Linked DNA regions of Homo sapiens. The protein of the gene in region 1 interacts with the protein of each later gene in a biochemical or structural test. Each region holds a gene or a part of one and is shown on either strand. Other genes may lie near its edges.

The links.
Region 2: the proteins of TNRC6B (region 1) and AGO3 form a complex in vitro, tested with the Homo sapiens proteins (one study listed by BioGRID).

What each region holds. Positions count from the first base shown.
Region 1 is NC_000022.11:40,180,846-40,188,063, reverse strand, and holds part of TNRC6B (trinucleotide repeat-containing gene 6B protein), read right to left. Parts: intron 1-7,218.
Region 2 is NC_000001.11:36,067,040-36,073,153, reverse strand, and holds the end of AGO3 (protein argonaute-3), read right to left. Parts: 3' UTR 654-6,114; downstream 1-653.

The DNA.
Region 1 (7,218 bases):
ATTTTTAGTAGAGACGAGGTTTCACCATGTTGGCCAGGCTGGTCTCAAACTCCTGACCTCAGGTGATCCACCCGCCTCAGCCTCCCAAAGTGCTGGGACTACAGGCGTGAGCCACCGTACCCGGCCAGATTCAAGATCCTTTCTATCTTTACTGGTTATCACTTAGATGGTCTAGTTAACAGCTGCAAAGCAGTCTCAATCAATGAGATAATTAAATGAAAATCTTTGAACCTGCTTTTTATAAACTGAAAAAACCCACCCATATTTAGTAAATATGCGTTCAATTGGCCCAGGTCGGCAAAAAGTACACAATGACTAAACGGGGCTAAACGGAGAAAAGTGAGATAAGAAAAGTGAGAGACAAGCACAACATAATTAGCCTGGTGGCACCCTCTCCCACCTCACACCTCCACCACACAGGGACGCTGGGACACTGACTTAAAGCAATCCTAACTTCATCCCCCCACCTGAAGCCACCACCTCACTGACTCCAGGGAGTGCAAAAGAAACTCACAAACAGTAACAGGAACGCTCCCACCCCTCCTGCTGGATCTGTTTTTAAGTGTAAGCCTCTGCACCAAGCATTTCAGAAACATGGCACAAACCGGTATGTTTAGGAACTTCTACCAATGTACCATTCTGCTGACTGTAGCCCAAACACTATTTCAAATTTTGGAATCTGTGTATTTTCATAAAAAGTTTGTCTCCTCACATTCAAAATTAGAGATTTGACCCTTCTAAATTCTAAAAATTCCACTAGGATAAGCCAACATGTATTCTAAGAAACACTAATCCTGTGAAATGCTTTGCGATGGTGCTAAACCATTTTGGGTATTTTCAGAGTGCACATCCGCTGTACAGTAGCCTATTTTACTTCGCATAACCCTCCCTGTGCTGTCCAACAGAGTAGCCGCACGTGGCTACTGTGCACTTGCAATGAGACTAGTGCCACTCAAACTGAATTTTTAACTGTATTTTAATTAATTTAAATTTAAAAACTGACATTTCCATTGCTGGAAAACTTTTTTATGTTTGGAAAAACGTGGGTATGTGAACCTACTTTTCCATGAAAAAGTAGTAAGTTTTATGAAATCTAAAAGCAAATCAAGTATTTCCAATGAAAATTTTATGTTTGAACTGAAATGTGTTGTAAGCCTAAGATACACACCAGGTTTCAAAGTCTTGGTACAAAAAAAACGTAAAATGTTGCGTTAACATTTTAAAATCAATAATATGTTGAATTAACAATATTTTACATAAATAAAGTCGATATTACTGAAATTAATTTCACTTATTTCTTTTTATTTTTAACTTTTTTTTTTTTTTGAGATGGAGTCTTGTTCTGTCACCCAGGCTGGAGTTCAGTGGCGTGATCTCGGCTCACTGCAACCTCAGCCTCCCAGGTTCAAGCAATTCTCCTGCATCAGCCTCCCAAGTAGTTGGGATTACAGGCATCCGCCACCACGCCCGGCTAATTTTTGTATTTTTAGTAGAGACGGGGTTTCACCATGTTGGCCAGGATGGTCTCGATCTCCTGACCTTGTGATCCGCTCACCTCGGCCTCCCAAAGTGCTGGGATTACAGGTGTGAGCCACCGTGCCTGGACTGTTTACTTTTTTAATGTGACTCCTGGAAAATTTAAAATAACACACGTGGCTTGCATTCTGTTCCTACTGGGCGGTGCTGGCGCCATCGAATGATTCCCATACCAACACTGGAACACCTCCCAACACCAGGTTCGGGAATGTTGCCATAACCAAATACTTTTCTTCCTGTGCAGCATTTGAACTGCTGCCCACACCTGTGATCGAACAGTTCTTCCCTCATCTTCTGTGATGAGGAATGACTGTCCTTCAGAGCCACCGTTCTTTTTATCCTTTCCCAGGTCCTCTTTCTCTTCCCGTCCCCAAGGTCTCATTCTCAGTTCTTTTTTCTATTCTTTACAGTCCCATGGTGACCTCATCCTCTCCCTTACCTTCGACTATCACTTCCACGTGGAAGCCTTCCAAGTCTTTATCTCCACTTCTGACCTCTTTCTCAAGCTGCAGATCCACACTGCCAGCTGCCTGCTAACCAGTTCCATTGCCAAGTCCCACCAAATTCTCCAATTCAGTAAGTCTGACCTGGAATGCGTCATCTTCCTTTTGGTTGAAGATTCCCATCATTCACCTTAAAAACCTGGTCCCTAGTTGCATGGCCATAGCCTTATAGCAGGACCTTTCATAACAGTCCTTTTATCCCCTAATTGGCCTGCCTGTCTCTCAATTCTTCCTTTAATCAGTGCCCCCCCACCAAGTCCTCCTCTGCACCACTGCCATATCAAAATTCTCACTGCACTGCCATCAAATTTTCAACAGGTCCCCACCGTCTACCATAGCAATACAAACTACTCAGCAGGCACTCAGCTCCTGTACACGTGTGCAACCTCCCCTCAATCCTCCCTGGACACACCTAGTCCTCCTCCACCTTACTCTAGCTAATACAGCCTGCCATGAGTCTACTCACCACCATTCTGCCCAATCTGTAGGGTTCCACTCAAATACAAAGTCCTCAACAAAGCTTTCTCTGATCAACACAGTTAAAATCAGTGTCTCTCCTCCCTCAAACTCCTTTGGTACTTCTAATAATCATTATGGTAATGAGAGTATATGGCCTTATCTTTATAAAATAGTACAGTATTCCCTTAATAGCACTGAACAGCACCTTGCACTGCATAGTACAGGTATGCCATCTTTGGACACCTTACCAAAGAAATCAACTTAAAAAGGAAAATCTTGCCAGGTGTGGTGGCTCACACCTGTAATCCCAGCACTTTGGGAGGCCGAGGTGGGTGGATCACAAGGTAAAGAGAACAAGACCATTTTGGCCAACATGGTGAAACCTCGTCTCTACTAAAAATACAAAAATTAGCTGGCCGTGGTGGCACATGCCTGTAATCCCAGCTACTCGGGAGGCTGAGACAGGAGAATCGCTTGAACCCGGGAGGCAGAGGTTTCAGTGAGCCAAGATTGTGCCACTGCACTCCAGCCTGGCGAGCAAGACTCCGTCTCAAAAAGAACAAAAAAAAATTTGGTAAATTTGGAACTACTGGTAACTCTTAAGTCTTTATCTCCAGACCGGACCTGTAATTACTCCAGCCTTTCACCTGGATATCTCAGGATTCAATGATTCCAAAACTGAACTCATAATCTCAACCCCACACCTGTGCCTCATCTAAATGCACCCTAACTCAACGAATGGTGGCACCATTCCCACAAGAAGCCAGGCAGAGACACAGGTGTTATTTTACATTTCTCCAACCCCATCTTCTCATACCCAATGACCAACTCCTCCAAAATCTTCCTAAATGCCTCTGGAACTCATTCATTTGTCCCCAACTCTGTTGTCAGTTCAGGCCACTATGACCTGAGATTACTACAGTATCATCTGGTCTGACGTGCAATGTCCCAGCCAGTTTCCACAACACACCAGAATCGTCTTTCAAAAATCCAATCTGAACAAGTGACTTTCCCACTTAAAACCCTTCAACTGTTCTCAGGAAAAAGACTTTCAAACGTGGCTTATACACTCTTCTGCATCTGGTCAAGGCTTAGTTTTTCAGCTTACCTCTCATTTCTCAGATTATTTCTTCCCTTAAGCACACGACACTCCAACCATGTCAAAGTACTCTCTATGCTGTTCCCCAAATATGCCAATGTCCACTAGTGCCCCGTGGTCTTTGCAGAAGCTGTTATCTCTCTAGGTGTCCACCCTTTTTAACCCCCCAACACCCTGAGCACCAGCCAGCCCCTTGCATCTATTCTCTAACTTCAGCAGTCGTGTCTGGAGAAAATCTTCACACTACTGCTAGGCTTGTACTTGTACTTATCAACACCTGGCATGTGAAAAGCACTCAGTAATTATTTGCAGAATGAATGAGTAAACAGATCATTTTCTAAGTTTTTTAAAAAACAAATTCCAACGTCAATGAATGAAAGCCATTTTTCTGTCACCCATATTAATTCAACAGCATTGTATAAAGTGGGCAATGGACCTAAATTTTCATTTTGCCCATTGAGTCAAAACTGGCTGTTGTGCACGGTGGCTCATGCCTGTAATCCCAGAACTTTGGGAGGCCGAGGCAGGTGAATCACAAGGTCAGGAGTTCGAGATCAGCCTGGCCAACATGCCGAAACACTGTATCTACTAAAATATACAAAAAATTAGCTGGGTGTAGTGGCAGGCGCCTGTAATCCCAGCTACTCGGGAGGCTGACGCAAAAGCATCGCTTGAACCCAGGAGGCGGAGGTTGCAGTGAGCAAAGATCACGCCACTGCACTCCAGCCCGGGCGACAGAGTGACTCCATCTCATATTAAAAAAAAAAAAACAACCTAGTAATAATTTAGTCAAATAAACAGAATTTACATGTGTGGGCCCAGAATAATCACAATGAGGGAGAAAACGCTGTATTCAATGTTCTCCTTTGCCTTGTAAACTCTAAGACCAATTCATTTGAAATTGCTGAGAACCTTCTGATGCAAAGCACAGAATGTATGAAAAACAGCCAAGTAAACGTGGATACAACACAGAGGCACAGCCTGAAGGAAACTGGAGAGTTATGAAGAGACGACATCAGACCACAGGAATGTAGGGACTTGAATAAAGAGAAAAGGCTCCGTGCTGCTCCTGTCCTTGTGCAGGCTAAAGCTCTGTGCAATCACTGTACAGGCTTCATGATCCTGGTAGCCATGAGAAAGAACAGAGCCATTCTGCGGGGCCATAAAAGCCTTTCTGGTTCATTCAACAAAGGGAGATACAGCAAAGGGGAAGGAAACACTTACTAAGCAACAAGACTAGGTGCCCAGCCCTCACATATAGCATTTCCTTTATGCGTCGCAACAATATATTATCCCCATTTTGCTGGTGAGGAAACGAGCCTACCATCGTCACACAGTGAGTCCTGGTGACCTTATACTCACACATTTTCACTCAACATCCACTCCTGCCAAGCCGTTCTAGATGTTGGGGATACAACAGTGAGGAAAACAGATAAGGTCTCTGCTTTCAGGAAACCGGATAGTATTGTGGAGACGTACCATACACAAATAATTTCAGATGGTGATACAATTTAGGAGTGTTAAAAAAGTAAAATTGAAGGATGTGATAAAATAACTAGGAAGGCAATTCCAGGTTGCAAAGTTCTCAGAGGTAATGCAAAAGATAATTTTGAAGAGATAGTGCACAGAGCTAAAGACAATGTTTAATAAAGTGACTATCAAGTCAAACCTTCAATGAAGTCTCCAAAACTACCAGAAGCAAAAAATTACCACTCATTCCCTGATTATCAGAAAAGATAACTAAGGAGTTATCTCAGTCATAACCTAAAGCAGTAAGTTATATAGTTAGTCACCAGATGGCAAGTATTTCCACATGAACCAAACTATTGAAGGCAATGGGCCAACCAAATTAATTCTTAGATGCCCCAGCACCTACATCAGTGCTTAATAAATTACTGCTGAACAAATATATGACGGAAAGAAGAAAACAATGTTAAGATGTCACTGCCATGAGTTAAATAAATCCCTTTTCTGGCCAAGTGGCTTCAATTCACTCCACCCTACCCCTGACACCCGTCTTAATCACAAGCAGGTGAGGAAAGTGGGATTAGAGTAAATCCACGAACAATACTGTACAGAGAAACAATTAGCATATGCTGTCCCTCTCCCCAGCCACCAGACAGAAACAAGTTCCACTTAAAGAAGTCTAATATCTAAATAACTAAAAATTATTAAATGGGGTAATTATTTGGCTTTTTTTTCTTTTCTTTTCTTTTTTTTTTGAGACGGAGTCTCCCTGTACTGCCCAGGATGGAGTGCAGTGGCACAATCTCGGCTCACTGCAACCTCCGACTCCTGGGTTCAAACGATTCTCCTGCCTCAGCCTCCCGAGTAGCTGGGATTACAGGCAGGCGCCACCACCCTTGGCTAGTTTTTTTGTATTTTTAGTAGAGACAAGGGTTCACCATATTGTCCAGGCTGGTCTCGAACTCCTGACCTCGTATCCACTCACCTCGACCTCCCAAAGTGCTGGGATTACAGGCGTGAGCCACCACGCCCGGCTGGCTTTTTTTTTTTTCTCTCGAGACAGGGTCTAGCTGTTTCCTAGGCTGGAATGCAGTGGCACGATCTTGGCTAACTGCAGTGTCAACATCACTGGCTCAAACTATCCTTTCACCTCTCAGCCTCCTGAGTAGTTGAGATGACAGGCGTGAGCCACCATGCCCAGCTAATTTTGTTTAAAATTTCTTGTAGGGACAGGGTTTTGCCATGTTGCCCAGGCTGGTCTCAAACTCCTGAGCTCAAGCAATCAGCCTGCCTGGGACTCCCAAAGTGATCACAGGCGTGAGCCACCACGACTGGCCTATTTGGCTTCTTTAAGAAATTTTAAAACAAGGACCCTCCTAATGCAGATACTCAGATACTTCTGTAACCAGGAACTTGCTCTGAATATTGCACATAAACTGCCAAGTTGTGACGATCTGTTTACCAATAATGCTGACCTGGTACTCCTTGAGGAAAGGGACAAAGTACATTCATCTATCTGCATTGCCTCAGGGCTGTGTCCAGCTTAAACTGCAGATGATCAATGATTATATGATCTGAGTTATAAAAATTAAAATCTTTCCAAACTTTTCAGTCATGGAGCAGCTGGGTAGGGTGAGGAGCAGCTGGGTAGGGTGAGGACCACCCTTATTCCTCAGGGTGGTCCTCAATAGCCAGAGCTGCTCAGCCTGCTCTGCAGAACCTGAAGGTCTCATCATCGCATAACACTCTTCTAGTGTCTCTTGTAGAGCTGAAGAGCTGGAGAAGCCTTAGAAGTCTCTGCTTCAATGTTCGGAAGTTTATTTTTAAAGGACCATCCGAGTGGCCACACAGAATAACAAATGGCCATTCACAGCTGAAGAACAGAGCTGAGTTTGCACCATATATCAAAGATGCCAAAGCTTCCTTTCTGGGAACCAGATGGAATGACTGAAAAGCACTTTAAAATTGAGATACCACTTCTGATGAACGCTACCAATTTTTGTGATCTTTCAGTCATGAACCTGTGACATTTTTTTCTGAGACAGAGTAATGTTGTGATATTATCACTAGTTGATCCAGCATTAGGAAATATAGATTGGTGGGGGGGGTGGCAGTTAATAGGGATTATATTCACTTTCTCCAATAAGAAACTTC
Region 2 (6,114 bases), on another chromosome or scaffold:
AGAAAAGAAAGAAAAAAATTTAAACAATTAAAAATTATTTGCAGACTGAAACTGGCCTGCCAACTTGCAACTTCTGGTATTAGTCCAACAACTTTAATTATAAAATGAAGAGCTATACCTGAAATTATGCAGTTAAAGAGGGTTGAGAGCTGATTTCCAAAATCTTAGTCCAGTGTTTTCTTGCATCGCATACCGGGGCTGTTTATCCACTTTTGGGCCTGTAAAGATTCCTCCAGTTCATTTTGGTTCCTTTTTTTCCTACATATTCTTAATTCTTTCACCTCCTGGCAAAGTTTGGAAGCCTAGCGTCGTCTCCCCATTTTCACTCCACTCACTGTCTTTTATTTAAGAAGGTGAAAAATGGGTGGGGTAGAGGGGAGGTAGGCAGTCTTTGAAAAACCCGAGCTCCAGCCACATGCCCAGCACTGGAAACATTCTATGCATTGTCTCATTTAATGCTCCAACAGTTCTACTTTCTCCTTTCACACTGGAGGAAACTGAGATTTAGAAGCATCAAGGAACTTGCTCAGAGTGTCACATAATCAAGGTTTGAACCCAGGACTTCATGACTAAAGCTTAAGTGCCTTCCACTGTATCACATGGGTCTCGTTCCCTAGTCTGAAGAGCTGTAATGATGACCACACAAGAGAAAGTTTAAGAGCAAAGCTTTTCTTTTTATTGCAGTTATTAGTGAAAGTTATACTTCAAACTGAAGCTAAGCAACACTAAAACCATTAATATTTTTAAAATCAAGGATTAAAAACAAATACAACATAGAACTCTCCAGTAGGCAGAATGGCAGAAAAAAGAGTAGTGGTTCTGTCACAGAACATTTCGTGACAGTTTGGCTCAGAAAGAATCATGACAATTTCTTTTGTTGTTGTTGTTATTTGCCTCCCAACAGGAAACAATGACACTTTCTTTAACACAAAATATTATATGAGCTGCTTAAAAACCAGCTTCTTCAAGCTTCTCAGTCTCACTCATAACTTGTTCGTAGTATAATAATTTCTGTGGGGAAGATAGTTTAACTGAAGTATAATATTTTTTGTGGGGAAGATAGTTTAACTGAAAAAGAAAATATATTACCAAATTTTAAATACTGAAAACAAGGACTTTTGTTCAAAAACTTTATTTGCCTTCTGCTCATTATAATTACATATAATCTTCAAGGAGTTTAAATGACAACCAAATCCAAGGCCTGGCCCCCAAGAACACAGTGATAGGATTCAGCATTTGGTGTTTCTAATTATACAATGACTACATATATATCATAGACTTGCTCTCATCCATTCTCCACCATAAAGTTTCAATTTCCTCTTAAAATATGGCAGTCAAGTTTAGTCTCATTCAAAATCTTATCTGGTCCTACAGCATATTACAGACTTAGACTCACTCTTCTGTTTTAATTGATGTTACTGTGTAGCCGAAGATTTTAAAAAAAGATTTATAGATATACACTTGAAATTCTGCAGTCTTGAAATACTACAATAAATTTTTCTTACTTATGAAAAGCCAACAACAACAAAAAAGGCCAGGCCAGGCATAAGACAGAGGGGAAGGGAAGATGAGGAGGGAGGTTTGAGAGTCCCATCATTTTGCCTTGCTGAAACTGGGTTTCAGTAGAAATATTTGGCAAGAATAGTGTGGAAAAGGAGGATGGAGAAAGAGGTTACTCTGATTTTATGTAATAATTCAGTTTCAAAACATACTGATATCAACCTCCAAAAATAGTAGTTCACATCTGCAATACAAATAGGCACACACGGTAAAGATGGTTAAAAAGTAGAATTTAAAAGGCTATTTGTCCATCTTCAGGACATTTTGCAGGCGGCCCCACCCTCCCCACATGTCCTGTATTTACATTTTACTCTTCAGAAAAGCCCCTTTTAAAAGAATGCTATTTCTTCCTCCATTACTTAGGGTTTTTTTTGTTTTGTATTGTTTTGTTTTGTTTTGTTTTTAGCAGCAATTATCTAGTGGGAGCAGTTAGCTACGCTTTAGGGGTGTATGTTTGTATGTGCATTGTGTATAACAGAAGTGTTCTCTAGAGTGAGCAGTCAGATTACACTGCAATGGTCATATTACCATTGAGTCCCCCAAACACTAAAGAAAGACATTATTTTTTTCTATATAAACTTAATACGCAGAGTTATAAACATAAAATATTGATATAGACACACATACGCACACCACTGCTTCCCAAAGCCTATGAATGCATCCACGTACTAGTCCACAAGAATGATCTTTATTCACAAGATATAGGAATACTTTTATGGGTCCATAACTGAAAAGAGACATTAAAGCTACACATTACAGCAAAAATAGTTTAAAATTATTCCTGATATATCAGCGTTAGCTATCTCACTGCACAAGGTGGATTTTTTGTTCATTTTTCATTTTTCAAACATGAATCTCCCCAACTTTTCATCTTCAGTACTTGAAATTCTCATTGAAATTAATGCAGATGCCAGCTTTGTTAGCAATGAGTTGGAAAAGCCCAACTGCCTGCAACAAGGGGAGGTTGGCATCTGTGGAGATAAAAGTAAATGTTGAATGCGTCCATACCCTGTGTACCTAAAATGCATCCTTTTTTCTTTTTTTAAAAAAAATCTTGTCTGTTGCAACAAAGAATTGTTTACACTCCCTGCAGTGGTGTGCCCTTTGTAATTTCCTAGAAACAGAATCTCTTCCCCCCATGGAAATGCATAAGCCTGTTGAAATGTAAGGACCTGCCACGATCTATAAAGGTAACTGCATCAGACACCTGATATGACCTGCAGGTGCTCAGAATTGAATTCACATGAAGCAGAAACTTTCACTATATTTTAACCTTTATAGGTACATGATGATTGGAATTTTTAAAGTAAAGCAAAGTTAAATTCTGCAAAGACATGAGTGAAATAAGCACACTTTCTTTCTTAAAATCTAACCCTCTTCTTCAAAGAAAGGTACCAAAAATCGGCCAAGAAACAGGGAATAACCATCTAGTTGTACAATAGCCTCTGATGCTAACATGTAGCAAAAGTGCCTGAAGGCAAAGGCGAAGTTAATTTCTAAGTATTTGTATTTTATTATTATTATTTTTTTTTTTATTGAGACAGAGCTTCGCTTTGTTGCCCAGGCTGGAGTGCAGTGGCACAATCTTGGCTCACTGCAACCTCTGCCACCTGGGTCCAAGCAATTCTCCCACCTTAGCCTCCCGAGTAGCTGGGATTACAGGCACCCTCCATCGTGCCCAGCTAATTTTTGTATCTTTAGTAGAGACGGGGTTTTGCCATGTTGGCCAGGCTGGTCTCGAACTCCTGACCTCAAGTGATCCACCTACCTCGGCCTCCCAAAGTGCTGGGATTACAGGCATGAGCCACCGCACCCAGTCAATTTCTAAGTATTTGATGGTTTTCACCACATTAATCTAACTCAAAACTGCAGCTGCCATAGCACCACTAAAATCATTTGGTTTTTGAAAAGTTATGCTTTTGCCAAGGATTATTATAAAGAAAAATTCAGCCTGTGTGCTGGATATCTTGCAGGGAAGAAACAACAGGATATGTTTGTAAGTGAACACTACACCATGATAAGGCCTATGTTTCTCTTATTCCTATTTCATAAAATGATCTACAACAAAGACATTTTCACAGAGGCAAACTGGAAAGGAATCCTTCACACAACACTCTTCTATTATCTTGAACGTCTGAATAGCTTTTCCTTTGGAGAACTCAAATGCTTCCGCAAACATTATCTTATTCTTACAACAATTTAGTGATCATGCCTATAATCCCAGCACTTTGGGTGGCTGAGGCAGGAGGACTGCTTGAGCTCAGGAGTTAGAGATCAGCCTTGGCAACATGTGAGACCCCATCTCTGCAATAAAAGAAAATAATTAGCTGGGTGTGGTGGCATGTACCTCTAGTCCCAGCTACTTGGGAGGCTGAAGCAGGAGGATAGTTTGGGCCCAGGAGTTGGAGGCTGTAGTGAGCTATGATCACACTACTGTAGTTCAGCCTGGGCAACAGAGTGAGACCCTGACTCAGAACAAAAGAACTCCAACAATTTAGTGAGGTAGGTGAGGACAGGTATTACCACTCTTATTTACAAGGGGAAACTAGGCACACAGAGATTAAACGAATTGCCTAAGGACACGGAGCAAATCAGTGGGAGACCTATTACTAAATTCCAAGTCTCTGGCTCATATTCTAGAGCCCTTTCTACTCTCAAAGGCAATAAATTCTCAATAGGCTTTTTCCATTTGTGATCTTTCAAAAGTTCCTCCATTAAAGAACACCTTAAGCCTTCTCTCTTATAGCCCACGCTTGACTAGGAACTGGGATGAGTTTTAAACTATTTTTACACAATATTTTGCACATATCAAGAAGGCAGATGTGAGACATAAGCTGTATAATAAAGTCAGAATAAATACATAAATTAAGAGAAATGAACAGGTTAAGTATTAATTCATTCAATATAATTTTTTACATATTTTAGAAGCCATGTATCAGAATAAAAGTCATAACATTTTAAAGTTTAAATCAGAGTCCAATTTATCAAAACCATAAGCTATATTAATTTTCTTTAAGAATATGAGGATCTCTGTTGGTTGGCAGAAGGTTAGAATATTACTTTCAAGAATAATTCTTATTTATTTATTTATTTTAAAGATTGGGGTCTTGCTGTATTGCCCAGGCTTGCTTTAAACTCCTGGGCTCAACTATCCTCCTGCCTCATCCTCCTGAGAAGTTCGGACTACAGGTGCAAACCACCACATCTGGCTAATATCAACAATAATATTATCACTGTGCCATAATACATCATATTCCTGATATATACTCTGTTCACATTAGCATTCTATAGCCAGCAAAAAATTCCATGGCTAGAGATAATACTTGCAACATTAATACTTTCAATCTTAATTCTCACTTAACTGAGTTAGAATTTCTCTTCATATATGTTAAAGTTACATTGTAATAATCATCATTCTATCTATTTTTGTTTTATCCTTCCCCTCTTTTATTTTTAACAGTGTGTGTGTTTGTGTGTGAGTGTGTGTGATGGGGAAAAAAGAACAATTGTGTGATTCACAAATGGCATAAAACACTGATTGTATTACAAATAAGAATGGTGGCACTCTAGTAAGTAAGATAATGGAATGTCAAAGGAAACAAACTTTAGAATACAAACATGGAAAACATGCTAAAATATTAATCAAGCTATAGCTTGTGGCATGTGATTCTTCTTTCCCAAGTATTTTGAGAGTGTCATTTACCCCCAGTAGAATTCTATATCAACTGCCTCTAAGTCCTTTTCCTATTCCTTCTTTTTTTTTTTTTTGAGACGGAGTCTCACTCTGCCACCCAGGCTGGAGTGCAATGGTGGGATCTCGGCTCACTGCAACCTCCGCCTCCTGGGTTCCAGACTACCTTGTCTGGAAAGGCCCTGCTTGGTGTTTTCTATTTAAAGGGGAAAACCAAACATGTTATGTTGATAGCAATGCCTGGCTCTATTAAAGATAAATCCTTCATTTAATTTCCTTATTGTAATTCAGACTAGCAGGATTCTCCTGCCTCAGCCTCAGGCGCCTGCCACCACGCCTAGCTAATTTTGTATTTTTAGTAGAGACAGGGTTTCACCATATTGGCCACGCTGGTCTCAAACTCCTGACCTTGTGATCCACCTGCCTTGGCCTCCCAAAGTGCTGGGATTGCAGGCATGAGCCACTGCTCCCGGCCTATTCTTTCTTTTTTAAAGAGGGAATGGGGTTGGACCCTGGGCTAAGAAATGAGAAAGCTCCTGGAAAACCTTAATTGCAATTAATTACTATAGAAGATCAAGTCTGTTGCTAGCAAAACCAAAGCTTCCTTTTGTTAAACTCCCTGGGATCAAACTGTATCCATGAACTGGGTCGGACTGTCTATGCCAAAATTCTTTCTTCATTACAAACTAACCAGTGTTTTTACCAAATCCCACACCAAAACCATTTTCTTTACAGGAAAGACTACATTGTCTGGAAAGGCCCTGCTTGGTGTTTTCTATTTAAAGGGGAAAACCAAAGACACTATGTTGATAGCAATGCCTGGCCCTATTTAAGGATAAAGACTTCATTTAATTTCTTTACTG